2 linked regions of the Homo sapiens genome follow. The protein of the gene in region 1 purifies or fractionates together with the protein of each later gene. This does not show direct contact. Each region holds a gene or a part of one and is shown on either strand. Other genes may lie near its edges.

Region 1 (5,612 bases):
ACGCCTGTAATCCCAGCACTTTGGGAGGCTGAGGCAGGCAGATCACGAGGTCAGGAGATCGAGACTATCCTGACCAACATGGTGAAACCCCGTCTGTATTAAAAACACAAAAACTAGCTGGGAGTGGTGGCACATGCCTGTAGTCCCAGCTACTCAGCAGGCTGAGGCAGGAGAATCGCTTGAACCCAGGAGTCGGAAGTTGTGGTGAGCCGAGATCATGCCACTGCACTCCAGCCTGGTGACAGAATGAGACTCCATCTCAAAAAAAAAAAAAAAAAACAAAACAAAACCTGTCTCTAATCATAGATGATATGATTATCTATATAGAAAATCCTACAGGATCTACCAAAAATATCCTACAGCTAACAGATGAGTTTAGCAAGTTTGCAGTAAAATGTCAATATACAAAAATCAATTATATATCCACGTAACATTGGGAATCTAAAATTAAACAGTATCTTTTATAAGAGAACAAAAATTAAACACTCAGATATAAATTTAACAAAATATAAAAACTAGAAAACACCAGTGAAAGAAATCAAAGAGTACTTAAATACAGAGATAGACTGTGTTCATGGATTGGAATACTCAATATTGTTAAGATGTCATTTCTCCCTGAATTGATCTATAAATTCAATGTAATCCCAATAAAATTTCCAGATGGATTTTTAAAATAGATATTGACAATCTGATGCTAGCTTTAAATGGAAATGCTAAGTAACTAGAATAACCAAAACAATTTTGAAAAAGAAACAAAGAATACTTATACTACTTCATTTCAAGACTTACTATAAAGTTTCAGCAATCAAGACAGCGTGATATTGGTAAAATAAGAGACACAGAGATCAATAGAACAGAACTGAGAGACCAGAAGTAGGCCATCACAAATATGGCCAATTGATTTTTCACAAAAATATAAAGGCAAATCAATGGAGAATGGATAGTCTTTTCAGTTAATGGCACTCAAATAATTGGACAGTAATATGCAAAAATATTAACCTCTACCCATACCTCATACCTTATATAAAAATTAACTCAAAATAGGTAATAGGTCAAAATATAAAATGCAAATACAAAGCTTTAAGACAAAAATATGGAAAAAATCTTTGAGAACTTAGATTTGCAAAACGCTCTAAGATGCAACACAAAAAAACTCTATTCATCAAATTAACAAATTGATAAATCTTTATCAAAACTGAAAGCTTTGATCTGCAAAAAAACACTATCAAGAGAATGAAAAAGCCAGTGGGACAGACCCAGAGAAAATAATAGCAAATTATATTTCTGATAAAGGACTTACTTGTATTCAGAAAAATCTAAAAAACTCTCCAAACTCATCAATAAGAAAACAAACAATCCAATTTTTTAAATCAGGCAAAAGATTTAGAACAGACATTTCACCAAAGGAGCTAAGAAATGAAAATACACACATAAAAAGATGTTTGACATCATTGGTCATTAGGGAAATGCGAATTAAAATCACAATGTTTTGTCCCCATCTTCTAATTACAATCATTTTTGCTATAACACTTGTTTTGAAAACACAAGTTTATTTCAATGAGATTGAAATGTCAGGAAACAATCTGAGTATAATGCAAATTTCTTGTTTGCATTATGCACACAATTTGTCCACAGGAAACACTAGGTGAACATATAAAACTGTCCCCAGCTGAATTGAGCTGCATATAGAAATAAACAGCCTGGGCACGGTGGCTCACGCCTGTAATCCCAGCATTTTGGGAAGCCTAGGCGGGTGGATCACCTGAGGTCAGGTGTTTGAGACCAGCCTGGCCAACAGGGCGAAACCCCGTCTCTACCAAAAATACAAAAATTAGCCAGGCGTGGTGGCATGCCTCTAATCCCAGCTACTCAGGAGGCTGAGGCAGGAGAATCTGTTGAACATGGCAGGCGGAGGTTGCAGTGAGCCAAGATCATGCTACTTCATTCCAGCCTGGGTGACAGAGTGAAACTCTGTCTAAAAAAAAAAAGAAAGAAAATGCAGACATGCACACACCTCATGAGGACAACAACCCTCATCTCTCCACACACCCTCTTTCCACCAATGGAAGTGTGGACAGGCCACTTCTACAAACTTCAGGTCTTTCTCGGGAAAATGTAATATTTGCTCATTTCTTAACTATTTAATATGTAAAACTGTATTGCTATTTTTCATAGCTTCTGTTTTTTAAAATATGCCACTGATGAAGTGTTTGAGTGCGGTGCTTCCAACCGTAAGTCCTGTGGTTATTACTGAATAATTCTTGCATAACACATGATTTTTAGGCCCATGTGCCGTGTCATAGCAAAACTGACTAATATATACACTGAGAACACAGATACAACTACCTGGAGTGACTGTTCTGGCCCTTCATTGGGAGGCGCGCTCATTGCTTTGGAATTCCGGCTGAATAGTGATTGGAGTGTGGGGACAAGGCTAGATGGGAGCCAGAGAGAGTACTCTCTGATTCATTGTTTTATAATGGGAAAGTGGAAACATAGAATGAGTTTTTTATTTTGTTTTGTTTTGTTTTTTGAGAAGGAGTTTCGCCCCTGCTGCCCAGGCTGGAGTGCAGTGGCACGATCTCAGCTCACTGCAACCTCGGCCGCCCAGGTTCAAGTGATTCTCCTGCCTCAGCCTCCCGAGTAGCTGGGATTACAGGCATGTGCCACCATGTCCTGCTAATTTTGTATTTTTAGTAGAGATGGGGTTTCTTCATGTTGGTCAGGCTGGTCTTGAACTCCTGACCTCAAGTGATCCGCCAGCCTCGGCCTCCCAAAGCGTTGGGATTATAGGCGTGAGCCACCGTGCCCAGACACATAAAATGATTTTAGGGAATATTTGGGTAGCCTCAATCCCACAGTGCAAAAGTTATTCCTTATTCAATTATCTTTCCATCTTTCTAGACTGACATGGAAAAAGGGTCAGATTGTTACTACAGTATGCCTTTAACCCTCTCATCTTTTTCTAATAGAGAGGAGCCTCTAATCAAAGCCATCAGCAGTCTAGTATCTGTGAGAAGTGATACCTGTATTTCAGTTACAGTGATAATCAGTTTCCTGTTTAAATAAAAGCATTTAAATTAAAGAGTCAATTTAAAGGAAAAGTTAAGCAATAGTGCTGGAACCATGTGGATGGGTGAGATGTAGATGACTGAAGTGGGAACACTCACGGACCGCGGAGGTGTGGAACAGAGCTGTTTGCCTTTCAGGAACCTCCCCACCTATCTATATCCATATCCTTTTAGGAAATGCCTTCCACTGTCATGTGGTTTTAGAATTGCCTTCGCTCATTTTAATTAGACCTCTCGGCAGATGTTGGTGAGAAGGGAATCTGCACAGAGGGCTTCACCCCAGGTCTGGTACCTCCCCCACCTCCCCACCTGGTGCTTTGCAGGGGCCGCACCCACTGCTCTGTTTGCCAAGACCGCTTGGGAACAAGTAGATACACACCCAGGAGAGCCACATCCTCTGTCACCAGGGAACAGCTGCTCAGCCTCAGCACTTGAAGAGACATGGAAAGCTTTAGTGTTTCCAGAAGCAGCTTCAAGTTGCCACCAACACACTTGTTCCAAGAAAGGTTGAATACTTCCAGAGCAGAGAGGTGAACAGAGGCTTCAGCTAAAAGTGATAACAATACGAACAGCAGTAATTTAGGATTTCTTACAGATCATAGGCTTTGGATTTGAGGAAACTGGTCTAGGACAACACATGAATATAACTGGGGTTGAGAAAGTTGTAGAGACCATTTTCTTCTGCCTTAAATTTATGGCCTCAATTTATGTTGTCTGTTTTTTGTTTTTTGTTTTGAGACAGAGCCTTGCTCTGTCACCAGGCTGGAGTGCAGTGGCGCGATCTTGGCTCACTGCAACCTCCGCCTCCCGGGTTCAAGTGATTCCCCTGCCTCAGCCTCTCGAGCAGCTGGGGCTACATGTGCGTGCCACCACACCCAGCTAATTATTTTTGTATTTTAATAGAGACGCTGTTTCACCATGTTGCCCAGGATGGTCTCGATCTCCTGACTCAGGATCCGCCAGCCTTGGCCTCCCGAAGTACTGGGATTACAGGCGTGAACCACCGCGCCCAGCCTGTTGTCTGTTTTTATTTGGGGAAATATTGGAAACTTTAGCAATGCAAAACTTGATAAATTGGAATTCACTGTCCAACTGGGGTTTCTTTCCTTCACTTCACATGTAGGAAGGAGAAAGAGGCAAAGTGCTTGGACAGCTAGTCAAGATTTCCAGAATGTGTCCTGGTTGGTACATATTTCACTGCACAGTCACTGCTGAGATTCAGATGGGGGCAAGCCTCCCTCAGAGTCTGAAATACCAAAACTTATTTGTATTTACTTCACGCAATTACTGCAGGCAAGGAAAGTAACTAATGTATTTTGGAAAGATTTTTAAAGAAAAGTAAAAGATTTTCTGCTTAATTCTCAGTTGCCCCCAATGTTAAAATTAACCAGAATATCTTATTCCCAAGTTAATTGCACTTTAATCTATTCTGCCTTCCTTCTAGAAAATAATGTGTTCAAGGGGAAAATATATATCCTTTTATAATATCTAGTAAGAAAATCCTTACAGAGATCTACATTAAGGAGAAATGGAACTTTTTCTTCTAAAAGTGATGTAGGGAAATATATATTTGCTTCATTTACTTAATTCAAATTGAATGGTAGATTTATGTCAGATGATATAATTTAGTGTGATACCTAGTTGATCATGATTCATTGATTGTGCAGCTAGAATTAGAAACAGCTGTGCCTTCTAATGGCTGCAATTCCTTTAAAAAAAAAATATTTTCCCAGAATGGGCAACATGGTAAAACTCTATCTCTACCAAAAATACAAAAATTGGCCAGGTGTGGTGGCATGTTCCTATAGACCCAGAAGCTACTGAGGAGGCTGAGATGGCATAATCACTTGATCCCAGGAGTTCAAGGCTACAGTGAGCCATGATAGTGCCACTGCACTCCAGCCTGGGCAGCAGAGCAAGACCCTCCCAAAGTACTGGGATTACAGGTGTGAGCCACTGTGCCTGACCCAAGTCCACGGTTCTCTACTGGGGGTTAGTCATCTAGCTACCCTCCGCTCAGCATACACCAAAATTCCATCCTCACAAAAGAAAAGCTCATGTTCAGCATAAACCATGTTGTCTGTGCAAACAGGTTAGGCACAGTAAACCACCCTTCTCAGTTAGGAAATGGTATGAACACCCCCAGATTCCAAGTTCTGGGATATTAGCTAAGGGCCAGCCTTACTGGTTGATAGCAGGCCTTTACAGGGATAGCAGCATCAGGCCTGCTACGTTAACTCTTTTTTGCCCCCATACACGTGATTGGAGTTGCTGGATTTGGGTGCTTCCTGGATAATGCTAAAAACAGAGTCCTTCTCTCCAACCCTCTCACCAGTGTTTTTTATCAGTTGGCACTTCCTTAAAAATGAATTGTACTGTCCACCAGACAAGGGCTATTATTAATGAAATAAATGCATTAAATTCATAAAAATGAGTAATTATTATTATACATTAATAAAAATAAATGCATATTATTTACCCCCAAATTTGAAGAACTCTATATTTAGGGCATTCTTGCCCTCCTTTTCGGCCTGAGTATTT
Region 2 (3,500 bases), on another chromosome or scaffold:
AAATGATGGTCAAAAAATATAGGATGGCCGGGCGCGGGGGCTCACGCCTATAATCCCAGCACTTTGGGAGGCTTTCAAAAGCGGGTGGATCACTTGAGGTCGCGAGTTCGAGACCAGCCTGACCAACATGGAGAAACCCTATCTCTACTAAAAATACAAAAAATTAGCCGGGCGTGGGGGCGCATGCCTGTAATCCCAGCTACTTGGGAGGCTGAAGCAGGAGAATTGCTTGAACCCAGAAGGCGGAGGTTGTAGTGAGCTGAGATCGGGCCATTGCACTACAGCCTGGGCAACAAGAGTGAAACTCCATCTCAAAACAAGAACAAACAAACAAACAAAAATATATATGATGAATACACAGAATAAAGCAAGTTAAAAGCAATTTTAGTCAGCCCTCTGTACCTGTGGGTTCCACATCCACGGTCAACTAAACAGCAGATGGAAAAAATAACTGCATCTGTACTGAACATGTACATTTTTTTCTTGTCATTATTCCCTAAACAACACAGGTTAACTATCCCTAAACAACACAGTTTAACTATTTACATATCATTTATAATATTACGTTAGGTACTGTAAGTAATCTGGAGATGTTTTCAAGTATACTGGAGGATGAACAAGGTTATATGCAAGTACTGAACCATTTCATTTCAGAGACTTGAGCATCTGCAGAGTTTGGTATCTGAGGGAGGTCCTGGAACCAATCTCTAATGAATACAGAGAGATGACTATCTACTTTTTGAGAAAAAGCACGCTTCATTCAACATGTGATAGAAAAACCAATTAGGACTTCAGGTAGGGAGGTTAACTAGCAGCTTTCTCTAGAACTTGTCTATTAACATACACCTAGAGACAGAGGATCAGGAAAATTAGAAAGGAGGCTGAGTGTGGTGGTTCATGCTTATAATCCCAGCTCTTTGGGAGGCCAAGGCAGGAGGATCACTTGAGCCCAGGAATTCAAGACCAGCCTGGTGACATAGTGAGAACCTGCCTCTACAAAAAAAAATAAAAAAACTAGTGGGGCATGGTGGCATGCACTTGTGGTTGCAGCTACTTGTGAGGCTGGGGTGGGAGGACTTGAGCCTGGGAGGTTGAGGCTGTAAGTGAGCCACAGCTGTGTCACTGCACACTAGCCTGGGCAACAGAATGAGACCTTGTCTTTTTTCTTTTCTTTTCTTTGAGATGGAGTCTTGCTTGTCGCCCAGAATTGAGAGCAGTGGTGTGATCTTGGCTCACTGCAACCTCCGCTGCCCAGGTTCAAGCAATTCTCCTGTCTCAGCCTCTCGAGTAGCTGGGACTACAGGTGCACGCCACCACTCAGCTAATTTTTGTCTTTTCGGTAGAGACAGGGTTTCACCATTTTGGTCAGGTTGGTCTCAAACTTCGGACCTCAGGTGATCCACCCGCCTCGGCCTCTCAAAGTGCTGGGATTACAGGCGTGAGCCACTGCGCCCAGGCTTTTTTTTTTTTTAATTAAAGGAAAATATAATTTCTCTAATTCTCTTACATCTAATACAAGTATATCAGCCATACAGATATCCTGTATTTTGTGAAAGTTTTAGGAATTAAATGATTAGATCCTCTCAAATATTAGAAATTAAGCTCAGGCTATACATACAGCCCACAGAAATGTATGAAATTACAAATCAAAAGTTTTGATGGCATGAAGGCATATTGGTAGGATGAACAAAGAACCACGACACGGAATATTCTAAATTACTCCTCTTACCCTGCAGACTGACATCTGGTTTGTTGTAAGTGTACCAGTCTTGTCTGAGCAGATAACAGAAGTACAACCAAGGGTTTCCACAGACGGGAGGCTTCGAACAATGGCATTTTTCTTTGCCATTCTGCGAGTTCCAAGAGCCAGGCAGGTGGTGATGACTGCAGGCAGACCTTCAGGAATGGCTGCTACAGCCAGGGCCACTGCAATTTTAAAGTAGTAAATAGCACCTCTGATCCAGGACCCTCCATGAACCGGGTCATTGAAGTGCCCAATATTTATGATCCAGACTGCAATGCAAATAAGGGAGATGACTTTGGAAAGCTGTTCCCCAAATTCATCTAGTTTTTGCTGAAGGGGTGTTCTCTCCTGTTCTGTTGCCACCATTTCATCCCGGATCTTGCCAATTTCGGTGTTAACTCCAGTTGCTACCACCACTCCCATAGCTTTCCCAGCAGCAATGTTTGTACCCTAGGACAGAAGTAGAGAACTGGTCACAAGATGAATACCACATCCCAACTTAAATACCGACGCTGGTTTTTGACTAGGGCACCCAGATTCTCTACACATTCTACTAGGTCTTCCACTGGCTACTGTTCAAGCAACCAGCCATACAACTGTGACAACAAGCAATGCTCCATGTGCTACTTACTTATGTCAGGCAGCTCTGTACTGACCCACCTAGATTTCTATTTGAGCCCGGCTTGCAGACCATCTTCAAGCAGTGCTCTTAACCCCTCTGTGTTCCCAATTTTTCAAACTCATATAGTTCAACTCTAAGCATTCTCCACTTCTGGCTCCAACAACTCAAGGCCCCTACTTTTCTCACTGTAATAGAAACGGCAACTAGCCCCATGGGCTATCTTGACAACCCCTACTCATGTGACAGGGTCCAAAAACCAAAGAAATCAAATGTGAGCAGTCTCTCCCATGCCACTTTAATTCCTAGTGTTATAAGAGAAGGACATGGCTTCACTATTTTCAGGGTACCTCTATTTACTTACTATGGGTAGTAGTCAGGTTCTCATACAAACCCACAAATGTCCCCAACTTAAAATCATTTCCTCACTATTCAAAGAATTTTTCACATCAATAGAAAAAGTGAAATAGTAAAATGAACATTCATATACTTTGCACCTAGACTCACCATTATTAATGGTTTGCCATGTTTGCTTTCTCTCTCTCTCTAAACACGCACCTTTTTATTGTGAACCACATACAAATAGCAGCTGTCATCTACATCATTTTGAAAATACCCTTTATTGGCTAAGGCTTTTCCAAACAAATCTACTTTTCAACTATGTTTGCAGGTAAGAGTTTGAAGATGTATAAGCTAGTCATTATTTTTTGGTCCCCCAAAACTTGCCAATTAAAAGACATCTAAGTCACACGTTATGTTACTGCCATATTCTGACACCTAAGACTGACCATGAAAAGTGTGATTATCCTTTAGAATGATAGCCAGTGATGGTTGGCAGTGAAAAACATAACATTTGATTAGGCTTTGGAAATGTCTGTAAATAAAAACACATTTCATAAAGTACTTACAGAAAACAGCATGTTCTTTTTATCTTGGTTGACAGCTCGTGGGTCAGGGACGGGATCAGTGTGCTTGATGACAGAGACAGATTCACCTAAGCGGGTTGTGAGACAGAAAAAACAGATCTCTGCGACCCACACCAAGAACCTAGAACCTCTCATTCATGCCCACCCATTACCACTCTTGGGATACTGTTAGTGTGAGAAAAGGTTGGCAAAAGGCCCAATTCATTCAAAG

The links. The genes of interacting proteins can lie anywhere in the genome.
Region 2: the proteins of LRRC31 (region 1) and ATP2A2 purify together in Homo sapiens (affinity purification with mass spectrometry, with the first as the bait; one large-scale study listed by BioGRID). This does not show direct contact.

What each region holds. Positions count from the first base shown.
Region 1 is NC_000003.12:169,844,670-169,850,281, forward strand, and holds part of LRRC31 (leucine-rich repeat-containing protein 31), read right to left. Parts: intron 3,619-5,612; coding exon 3,451-3,618; intron 1-3,450.
Region 2 is NC_000012.12:110,326,247-110,329,746, reverse strand, and holds part of ATP2A2 (sarcoplasmic/endoplasmic reticulum calcium ATPase 2), read right to left. Parts: intron 3,358-3,500; coding exon 3,272-3,357; intron 2,195-3,271; coding exon 1,730-2,194; intron 1-1,729.